Linked DNA regions of Homo sapiens. The protein of the gene in region 3 binds, or shares a complex with, the protein of the main gene of each other region. Each region holds a gene or a part of one and is shown on either strand. Other genes may lie near its edges. The genes, in order: LSM5, PRPF6 and LSM4.

Region 1 (3,748 bases), on a different chromosome or scaffold from region 3:
ATGGGGTTTCACCATGTTGGCCAGGATGGTCTTCATGTCTTGACCTCGTGATCCGCCCACCTCGGCCCCCAAAGTGTTGGGATTATAGGCGTGAGCCACTGTGCCCAGCCTATTTTTCTAATTTTTAAAAACTCTATCAAATAACAACAATGTTTTGAATTCTCCCATACTGTCAGTATGGTATGGGGAAAATAAAATAGGAATAGAAAAGGAAAACCAGGAAAAGAGGTGGTTTTCAACCAAATGAGGATTGGACAAAAAGAAAAAAAGAGAAAGAGAAAGAAAGAAGCGTCACAAACAAATCTGGCATTACTTCGTATTTAAAATCTTATGAAGAGTAAGGAGAATGTTGATGGGTGTGAATGAAATAGTGAGAATCAATTTAAAGAATATTCATTAGGCGCCCTACAGTGTGCCTGAAAATGTAGTGTGCACAGTGTATAAAATAAGAAATTGCTTCCTTAAAGTGGCTTATGTCTGGTTATAAAAATAAGATGAATGCAAAACCAGCTAGCAATGCTAGCTTTATGTAGCTTCACTCTGAGCCAGACATCATGTATTAGAAAACAAGGATAAGTAATAACAGCTCATGTTTAAAAGGGCTATGTGCCAGGTCCTATGCTGACCACTTTTCATAGATTATCTCAATTAATCTTCACATTAATCTTATGAGTAGATACTGTTGTCCCCATTTTTTCCAATGGGTATATTGAGACTTAAAAAGTTAAAATAACTTGCCCATTGTCAAATAACTGACCATGGAATTTGAACCAAAGTCATTTAATTCAAAATGAAGAAATTTAATCACGTAAACTACTGCTTCCCATAATTCTCAGCCTTGAGGAACTCAGTCTATGAAGGAATGATGGGTGCTTAATGACCATTTGTTGTATGAATGAATGACGTTCTTTGTGGCCGCTCATGTTTATTGTTTAGCTTTTTTTTTTTTTTTTTTTGAGATGGAGTTTCGCTCTTGTTGTTCAGGCTGGAGTGCAGTTGCATGATCTAGGCTCACTGCAACCGCTGCCTCTCGGGTTCAAGCAGTTCTCCTGCCTCTGCCTCCCGAGTAGCTGGGACTACAGGCGCACGCCACCACGCCCAGCTAATTTTTGTATTTTTAGTAGAGACGGGGTTTCACCCATGTTGGCCAGGCTGGTCTCGAACTCCTGACCTCAGGTGATCCGCCCGCCTCGGCCTTCCAAAGTGCTGGGATTACAGTCGTTACCACTGCGCCTGACCTAGACTGTTCAGGTTTAAGTTCCTAGGATACAAATATAAAACAGACTAGGGCCGATACTTTGCTGTTTTCAACACAGAAGTGGAAAGCATGATTTTACACTTCTGGAATAATTTAGAGTGACATCTGGTGGTTGCCTGTGAGACAAGAATTGTTGAAGAAACTGAATTTAAAAGCCTATAATAAATAAGACTACCAGACATAAAAAGATAAGAACGATGAATTAAAGTAGTAAAAAGTTTAAAAAACATATCTTAAATCCTCACTAAAGAAAAATTTTAAAAAATGCTAGTTGCAGATTTTCAATCCACTGGACTTTAAAAAGAAACAATAGATTCCTTAATGAGTAGTTGTAACGAAAATTGTAACAGTTAATTGATGGCAGGAAATACGAATTGATTTATACTGGTTTGAAGATTCTGGCTTGAGAGGAAATGCAACTTTACGGGGGAAGAAGACTCAAACGTTACAGGAACAATTTATTCACAAGGCAAAATATCTTCAACGTCTCTCCAAAACTTCAAGGGCATTATGGGTATCTGCCGAGATGGTAAAATGTCCAGTGGGCAGGAAATATTTCACCGGATCTCACTTGCCGGGGAAAAAAGCCAGTGAACGCGACCCACGCAGCTGACTAGATCGTGCGCTCGGCCTCAGATTGGTCGAGCCTGTTTGGGCTGCGGAAAAAGCGGAAGCGCGCTTTTCAAAGTCGTCCCACCATCAATGAAGGCAGGCCACTTCCGGCGTAGCCATGGCGGCTAACGCTACTACCAACCCGTCGCAGCTGCTGCCCTTAGGTAATCGCCGTCCTTTGGGGAGCAGGAACAGGGAGCTGACATTCAGGATTGGGGGCCGAGGGGCTGTTCCGAGGCAGGCCCTGGCCGAGTGTGGGGAAATGTATAAGACCAAATGCGGTTCGACTCTGAGCTCCAAGTCTTCGCGACAGCAGGCCGCACCTGCTCTTTAACGTGGTCGGGCTCCTCCAGGCAAGGACTTTGACTTCTCAAACCAGACCTTCACTGGAAAAGGTCCACATTTAGTGAACGCGTCGTCGGCCTACTTTGTTGTGAGCCCGCCTCTGCAGTGTTATAGGTAGTAGGCCTACTTCTCAGCCTGGCGTTTACGATCCCCAGATTAGATAGACCATGTTATGTATGTGGTTGGTTAGTGACACTAACACCCTGGTCCGGAATGAGCCTTAAATGAGGAATCTGGAAACCAGCTCTGTTTGTTATTTATTCATTCAATAAGTAGTAACTGAGTATCTATACACTAGATACCGTGCCTGGGCATTTTTCAATGATAAACCATAGCCATTGCCTTCAAATAGCACACAAGCCAGTGGAGGAGAGAACACTGGACAAGTAGACATCATGCCACATAATGCTAGGCTAGCTAAAGAGATGTTCAAGCTACCGTCAGAGCACAGAGGATAGACAGAGTTGGGAAAGGGAAGCAGTGACCGGAGAGTTTCCGGTGAATATAATTATACCTATCTCCTCTTATATTTTTGTAGTTGGTGAAGAGTGATTGAACTAGTGGTCGTGGCCGTGATTGAAAAGTTTTCATTCCTTCATGCCACAGACTCTTTTGGAAGGCTCATTATGTGCCAGATGCTGTGCTTGAACTGAGATTTGTATTATAAGACCTAAAGTTATTGAATGAATGTTTTTCCTGGTTTTTCTTTCACTATATGCAAGTAAGAGTGCCAGTAGGCACTCAAATATTTGTTGAAATAATGAATGGTAAAATAATATTTTTTCCCTCCTCAGAGCTTGTGGACAAATGTATAGGATCAAGAATTCACATCGTGATGAAGAGTGATAAGGAAATTGTTGGTACTCTTCTAGGATTTGATGACTTTGTCAGTATCCTTTTAAAAGGTGGTGGTGGTATAGGTTTTTCTTAAGTAATAACATAAGAACTATAGACAATCAGTATATTTGTGATTATTATAATAAAAATCAGTTCATTCTCAGGGAACTTATGATAATGTTTTAAGAGGTATGTATTGAAAGACGGTAAAGTTCCTATCAACAACAAGCATTTTGAATTTGAGCCATTGTATTAAACATTGTAATTAAAACTGAACAGGCGAGCCCAGTGGCTCACGCCTATAATCCCAGCGCTTTGGGAGGGCGAGGTGGGTGGATCGCTTGAGCCCAGGAGTTTGAGACCAGCCTGGGCAAGATGATGAAACCCTGTCTCCACAAAAATTACAAAAATTAGCTGGGCATGGTGATGTACACCTGTGGGTCCAGCTAATCTCCGGGGCTAAGGCAGGAGGATCCTTTAAGCCTAAAAGGTGGAGGCTGCAGTGAGGTGTGATTGTACCACTGCACTTAAGCCTGGATGACAGAGCGAGACTTTGTCTCAAAACAAAAACAAAAACAAAAAACAAAAGCTGAACAAAGGCAGAAGCTAGAGTAAATTCTGTATTTATTTTCTTAACACCAAATTTCAGATATGGTACTGGAAGATGTCACTGAGTTGTGAGTAGTGTTAAAGAAT
Region 2 (3,748 bases), on a different chromosome or scaffold from region 3:
ATTTTTTTTTGAGACGGGGTCTTGCTCTGTCACCCAGGCTGGAGGGCAGTGGCGTGATCTCGGCTCACTGCAGCCTCTGCTTCCCAGGTTCATGTGATTCTCCTGCCTCAGCCTCCTGAGTAGCTGGGACTACAGGCATGTGCCACCACGCCTGGCTAATTTTTGTATTTTTAGTAGACACGGGGTTTCACCATCCTGGCCAGGCTGGTCTCGAACTCCTGATCTTGTGATCCACCCACCTTGGCCTCCCAAAGTGCTGGGTTTACAGGCGTGAGCCACCACGCCTGGTCAAAAATTACACTTTTTTTTGTAGAGACAGAATCTTGGGAGGCTGAGGCAGGAGGATTCCTTGAGCCCAGGAGCTGGAGGCTGCACTGAGCTATGATTGCCACTGCACTCCTGCTTGGGTGACAGAGTGAGACCCTGTCTCAAAAAAATAAATAAAAATATAGATCTTGGACAGACGCGGTGGCTCACGCCTGTAATCCCAGCACTTTGGGAGGCCGAGGCGGGCGGATCACGAGGTCAGGAGATCGAGACCATCCTGGCTAACACGGTGAAACCCCGTCTCTACTAAAAATACAAAAAAATTAGCCAGGTGTGGTGGCGGGCGCCTGTAGTCCCAGCCACTCGGGAGGCTGAGGCAGGAGGATGGCGTGAACCTGGGAGGTGGAGCTTGCAGTGAGCCGAGATTGCACAACTGCACTCCAGCCTGGGCGACAGAGCGAGACTCCATCTCAAAAAAAAAAAAAAAATAGATCTTTTTCCATACAGAAGAAATTTGTTATTATCACAAGGTGTTGTCTGAGTGAAATGAAGGCTGTTTTCCTTCTCCTTCTGACTGCTCTCTCAGGGTTGTGGGAGGGGCACCAGGGACCCTCTGAGAACTTTGTTTTGCACCTGGTCATGTCCAGCTGACTCTTAGCTTGGCCTGTCTCACAGGTGTCTGACTCCGTGAGTGGACAGACCGTCGTTGACCCCAAAGGCTACCTGACGGATTTAAATTCCATGATCCCGACACACGGAGGAGACATCAAGTGAGTGCTTTGCAGAATCGCTGGGCTGGGATGGAGACTCTAGTTGCCTAGGGTATTTTGGATTTTATATGGACAGTATGCTGTCAAAATGGGACATGGCGGTTCTAAGAAATGTAAAGTGGAGTAGTTTGTTTTTTCCATTTGAAATGTATCTGTATCCATTCATTGCGTACACTCAATGTGTTACATATGATACTGCAAAGTCCCTGCCTGTGCTGGGCAGGAAAGCAGCTGGCTGTGTCCCACATGTCCCATCTGGACCTTCGGTTCTCAGCGTTTGTCTGCGGGGAGGCTACAGAGGCTTGGAATAGTGCGCACTGAGGTTTTGAGTTGGTTTTTGTAACTCAGGACATCAGGACTGATAGTTCTTACATTGTGACTGTGAAGTGGGTGCCCTCATCCCAGGTCTCGGGTGCACCCCTGACAGCATGGCCTGATGCCGTGTGCACTCTCCCTCTCATAGTGATATCAAGAAGGCGCGACTGCTCCTCAAGTCTGTTCGGGAGACGAACCCTCATCACCCGCCAGCCTGGATTGCATCAGCCCGCCTGGAAGAAGTCACTGGGAAGCTACAAGTAGCTCGGAACCTTATCATGAAGGGGACGGAGATGTGCCCCAAGGTGAGGTATTTCCTGGGAGGCGTTTCCTGGGAGGCTGCGTGATTGTGGCCCCTACGGGAGTAAACTTGTTAGAGCAAATCTCTTTGTCTTTTGGTATTGAAACTACAGACAATAGGGCAGGCTGGGGGAGGATGTGAAAAGCAGCCAAGGGCTTTTTCCTGCTTGTTTTCATGTGGAGTGAAGGCTAATCCACCACTTTTTTTTTTTTTGGAGACGGAGTCTCGCTCTGTCACCCAGGCTGGAGTGCAGTGGCACGATCTCGGCTCACCGCAAGCTCCACCTGCCAGGTTCACACCATTGTCCTGTCTCAGCCTCCAGAGTAGCTGGCACTATAGGCGCCCGCCACCATGCCTGAATCCACCACGCCTGAATCCACCACTGGTTTGACGGCAGGCTAAGCTTCATTATAAAGAGCTCAGTTGGTCAGCTCTTCACCCGCCTAATGGTGGCCAGTCACGGTGGCTCACGCCTGTAATCCCAGCACTTTGGGAGGCTGAGGCGGGTGGATCACTTGAGGTCAGGAGTTAGAAACCAGCCTGGCCAACATGGCGAAACCCCGTCTCTACTAAAAATATGAAAGTTAGCCAGGCGTCGTGACAGGTGCCCATAATCCCAGCTATTCGGTAGGTGGAGGTTGCAGTGAGCTGAGATTGCACCATGCTGCTCCAGCCTGGGCGACAGAGCGAGATTCCGTCTCAAAAAAAAAAAAAAAAACAACAAAAAAGAACGACCCGAGCAGATGTGCAGTCTCTGCTTTGTCCATGGAGTTGTCCTGAAGGAAATCATGCTCTTTTCACAAAGTGGTGTTTCATTTTTTTTTTTTCTTTTTTTTTGAGTCTCGCTCTGTTGCCCAGGCTGAAGTACAGTGGCGTGATCTCAGCTCACTGCAACCTCTGCCTCCCGGGTTCAAGCAATTCTCCTGCCTCAGCCTCCTGAGTACCTGGGATTATAGGCACCTGCCACCACACCCGGCTAATTTTTGTAGTTTTAGTAGAGACAGGGTTTTGCCATGTTGGCCAGGCTGGTCTCAAACTCCTGACCTCATGATCCACCTGCCTCGGCCTCCCAAAGGGCTGGGATTACAGGCGTGAGCCACCGCGCCCGGCCATTAGGTGTTCTTCAGTCAGACATATGGTAGCCATGTTCCCAAGTGTGGTTATAAGGGGGCGACTCCTGGTGCAGGTGTGTTAGAGGCTGAGCTAATTGGCTTTCGTAAATTCTGGGGCCCGAGGATCTGCTCTGGAGATCTGTGCCTGCTGCCCTGTTGCGGCTTCCAGCCTGCACTGAGCCTTATTGGTCTTATCTCTTGCCTCACAGAGTGAAGATGTCTGGCTGGAAGCAGCCAGGTTGCAGCCTGGGGACACAGCCAAGGCCGTGGTAGCCCAAGCTGTCCGTCATCTCCCACAGTCTGTCAGGATTTACATCAGAGCCGCAGAGCTGGAAACGGACATTCGTGCAAAGAAGCGGGTTCTTCGGAAAGGTGAGCCTCCCTCGGAGGTGCTGCTTTCTCCCTCCTTGGGGCCCCTCCTCTCAGCAGCTTTCCTGCTCCTGGCTCAGGCTTTTGGTGAGAGTGGATAAGGAACCAGGGACATTTTTCAGGCCTTTTCTCAGGCTGGGTTGCCTCTGCCCTTGGACCCCCATGGGGGAGGGATACTGTGGTGGGCAAGTTCCCATCCTGGAAGGGATGCTTGGGTTGAGCCCTCACTCCTGCCTTTTTCCAGTGTGTGATCTTGGATGCTTGGGCGGTCACTCTGGTCCAGGCTTCCCTCATCTGCAGGGTGAGAACAACGGTAGCTCAAAGCCTGTGTCCTGGGGCTCTGGAGATGGTCTGTGTGAAGAGCTGAGCCGGCACCTGGCACGTGCAGACCCGTTGTGGGTGTTACTCATTTTCTCTCCTGAGAAGGCACCAGAGCCACACGTTGATTGAACTCTTTCCTGCTGCTGACGAGGCTGTGCCTTCTGCTCCCGCGATGCAGCGTGTGCCGTCAGCTCAGGTCAGATAACGACAGACGGTGTGCCTACCAGGCAACCTGATTCCATCCAGGGATTCCTGCCAGGGTAGAGCTTTTGTGGGTAGTTTGTTTATTTTTA
Region 3 (3,748 bases):
CTGCTCCCACAAAACTTAACACAGGGATGGATCCTTCCAGCTCTGCCCAGTCTTACATGCCAACTCTGCCCTCTAAGTACACCGCAGAGAGGGACAGGCTCTCTGAATCCTTGCACTTGAAATCGCCTTTGCAAAAATTGTAGCGGGAAATTATGACAGTGAAAAGAGATCAGACCTAACCGACTCCATTGTGCTTCTAACCTTTACGCCATCTTTGCTTATTCCTAGGTATAGGCCAAACTAACCTTGGGAAGGGATTTAGTTTATAGTTTGACTCTGGAACAAAATTGGTAATAGCCCTTTCCCGAAAAGACCCTCTTCTTGCCTGGGGACCAGTCTGCCTTTGTAGGACTAACAAATAAGCTACAAGATTAGAAATTACCATTTAGGTAACTTCAGCCTCTGGCTGCAAGAGTCTGAAACTCCCCAAATTGCTCCTTGGGATAACATCACTATTATAAAATCTAAGATCAGTGCTTGAGATATTTTGCAGACCCCGTACTTGACGGATCAGCTGACACTACCCAGACCAGTAATCTGGCTCAACCAGTCCTGCGATCCCACCCAGGAACAGAAGACAGCAAGAAAACCTCACTTCAACACTCCCGTCGATGACTCCATCGACCTCAGGAAGCTCCAACCAATCAGCACTCCCCACTTCCTGAGCCCCTACCCGCCAAATTATCTTTCAAAACTCGGATCCCCTAATGCTCAGCGGAGACTGATTTGAGCAATAATAAAACTCTGGTCTCCTGCATAGCTGGCTCTGTGTGAAATACTCTTTCTCCACTGCAATTCCCCTGTCTTGATAAATCTGTCTAGGAAGACAGGCAAGGTGAACCCATTGGGTGGTTACACACTGACCAGCCGGATTTAGGGAGAGTTCTCACTAATCCACAGTTCTGATGCAGCCACCCCTGGGGGACCCTCCTGGTTACTGAATCTCCCACTGTCTCACAGAGTCTGGAAGTCACATCCCCAACAAGGGCCTTGGTTTCTCTCATTGAAAAAAGAAGGACCAGAAGCTGATGGGCCAGGAAACTCCCAGCTCTGAATTCCTTTTCCGATCTGCACAGTGGGGGACACGGGCACTTTCTAGCCCAGATCCAGAACTTCCAGAATCATAAACAATGGGCCCTGCAGAGACCTGGGCCGCAATTTTTCCTTCTTTGTATTGGGAGGATGTACTTTGTCCACCCCTAGCTCAAAACGCCCCCTTCCGCTGGAATGACATGCTATGTGACCCAAGGAGAAACACCACACCCCAGCACCAGGCCTGCTTTTCAGCCAGAAACCAAGAGGCCTAGGAGGCTGTGCTGCTAGCATCTTGCAAGCTCTGAAATTCCTAAAACTAAGTTTCACAACTCAGACTGGCCCCCTACTTCCCAGCACTCTAGTTTTCAATCAGGGAGGTCAGACTGGGCCCGAAGCGTAAGGGACCCCTTCCCTGCCCAAAAACTCTCTGCTGCATTTGGCGGATCCCCACCTTTTTTTTTTTTACTTCAGTTTCCCCACCTGCAAACTGGGAAAACTAACTAAGGCGAGGCCACTGTACTGTGGATACAAGTCCGTGCAACCCTAAATCCCAGACACGAACGTGATAGAGCCACCTGCAGTCTCCGGCCTCAGTTTCCCAGCCTCGTGCCGGGGGGCGGGACTCGAGGCTCGGACCTTACGTTCGCCCCGCGCCAACCAAGCCCACAGCGCCCGCCCGCAGGGATCCCAACGACTGCTGTTCCCGCCTCCCGGTGAGACCCCGCAGTTGCCCTGCCCTCACCATGGTGCCGGCGGGGACCGGGCTCGCCGGCCACTTCCGCCGCCGCCGCTGCACACGCTCCCGGCGGTCGTCGCCGCGCCGCGCGCCACTAAGCTGAAAGAAAGTGGCAGAGACGCAAGCCAGTCAGCACCGGGCTCGAAGGGCGGTCAACCAATCCACGCGGAGTAGGGCGGGGCCCGCTGGGCGAAAGGGCGGGGCGGGCCGTGTTCCCGCCGGAGGAACGAGGACGAGAGCCGTAAAGTGCCGCGGCTTGTAATGCAAAAGGAGGCGGAGCAACGCGCGCCGGCGCGGGGTGCATTGTGAGGAAATGCGTGCGCAGGTGAAACCTTCGTCGGTCTCCTGGGCTCCACGCTGTGGGCAAAGCCAGTTAATGCCTTTCGTTTGCAGTAGAGAGAGAGAAATCGAGGCTTCGTGGTGATTGGGCCGTGCCTGATGTTGCCCTTCCGACTCCTAGTTTTCTGATTCTGTAATTATCCAGGGAACATCATTTAATAGGTTGGAATCCTGACCACGACCCTCGGGGCCTCAGTTTGCTCCCTGTAAATAGTAGTGTCTGCTCCAAAACGTTGCTTACTGTAAGGATGAAATGAATGAAACCATGTAAAAGCACTTAAAACAGCGTCTGGCACATATTAAGTACTTATTACCTACTCTGTGCCTGTTTCTGCTCACAGAATGAACAAAACACAAAATTCGTGGCCCTCAGGGAGACAGACAGTAAACAAAGTAAATAGGCGAATGCTATTAGTTTTCTGGGGCCTGCTGTAACAAATGCCCACACACTGCGAGGTTTAAAACAACAGAACGTGATTTTCTCACAATTCAAGAGATCAGAATAATGAAGTGAGGTTGTCAGCACAGTTGGCTCCCTCTGGAGGCTCTGAGGACAATCTGTGTGTCCTATGCCTCTCTCCTGGGTTCTGGTGGCTGCTGGGAATCCTTGGAGTTCTTGGCTTGTAGATGCAGCCTTCCGCGTTCTGCCTTTGTCGTCACTTGGCCTTCTCTGTGTGTCTCTGAGTCTCAAATGTATCTCTCCTTTTTTTTTTCTTTTTTTTTTTTGTAGTAGAGACAGGGTCTCCCTATGTTGTCCAGGCTGGTCTCGAACTCCTGGGGTCAAGCAATCCTCCCTCCTCTGCCTCCCAAAGTGCTGGGATTACAGGCGTGAGCCACCGAGCCCGGCCGCTCCTTTTTCTTGTAAAGGACACTCCTTTCTCTTATTAAGTCCACCATAAATTTCAGGATAATGTCATCTCAAGATCCTTAATTACATCTGCGAAGACCCTGTTCTTTTTTTTTTGAGATGGAGTCTCATTCTATCACCCAGGCTGCAGTGCAGTGGTGCGATCTCAGCTCACTGCAACCCCTCCCTCCTGGGTTCAAGGGATTCTTCTGCCTCAGCCACCCGAGTGGCTAGGATTACAGGCACATGCCACAATGCCCAGCTAATTTTTGTATTTTTAGCAGAGACGGGGTTTTGCCATGTTGGCCAGGAGGTGGCCTCGAACTCCTGACCTCAGGTGATCCTTCCACCTTGGCCTCCCAAAGTGCTGGGATTACAGGCATGAGTCACCACGCCCAGCCTCGTTTTTAAATGACTGATGCTATTTATTGACATTATTCATAATATCAAAAGACTGAAAAAAACCCAATGCGACCAAATAATAGAGTAATACAGCTATAAAAAGGAATGAAGACAATCTTCATATACTGACATTGAATGGTGTCTGGATATCTTAAGTGAAAAAAACCAAGGTAGAGAACAGTTTTTACAATATGTCCTCTTTTGTGTGCAAAAAGAGAAATACATGCATGTGTATGTGTATATATATTTGCATGTGTGTGTGTATATATATATATATATATATTTTTTTTTTTTAACCACACCAAGCACGTGAACCAAATTTGCTTATATTTTTAATAAGAAACATAAAGGCCAGGCTCAGTGGCTCATGCCTGTAATTGCAGCACTTT

Evidence for each region.
Region 1: LSM4 (region 3) and LSM5 share a complex: the UniProt entries of both Homo sapiens proteins name them as parts of the precatalytic spliceosome.
Region 2: LSM4 (region 3) and PRPF6 share a complex: the UniProt entries of both Homo sapiens proteins name them as parts of the U4/U6-U5 tri-snRNP complex.

The regions. Positions count from the first base shown.
Region 1 is NC_000007.14:32,488,606-32,492,353, reverse strand, and holds the start of LSM5 (U6 snRNA-associated Sm-like protein LSm5), read left to right. Parts: upstream 1-1,973; 5' UTR 1,974-1,988; coding exon 1,989-2,034; exon of another isoform or gene 2,035-2,329; intron 2,330-3,009; coding exon 3,010-3,105; intron 3,106-3,701; coding exon 3,702-3,729; intron 3,730-3,748. UniProt on the Homo sapiens protein: Plays a role in pre-mRNA splicing as component of the U4/U6-U5 tri-snRNP complex that is involved in spliceosome assembly, and as component of the precatalytic spliceosome (spliceosome B complex).
Region 2 is NC_000020.11:63,998,103-64,001,850, forward strand, and holds part of PRPF6 (pre-mRNA-processing factor 6), read left to right. Parts: intron 1-942; coding exon 943-1,037; intron 1,038-1,500; coding exon 1,501-1,657; intron 1,658-2,974; coding exon 2,975-3,137; intron 3,138-3,748. UniProt on the Homo sapiens protein: Involved in pre-mRNA splicing as component of the U4/U6-U5 tri-snRNP complex, one of the building blocks of the spliceosome.
Region 3 is NC_000019.10:18,321,241-18,324,988, forward strand, and holds the start of LSM4 (U6 snRNA-associated Sm-like protein LSm4), read right to left. Parts: upstream 1,837-3,748; 5' UTR 1,781-1,836; coding exon 1,778-1,780; intron 758-1,777; exon of another isoform or gene 494-757; intron 1-493. UniProt on the Homo sapiens protein: Plays a role in pre-mRNA splicing as component of the U4/U6-U5 tri-snRNP complex that is involved in spliceosome assembly, and as component of the precatalytic spliceosome (spliceosome B complex).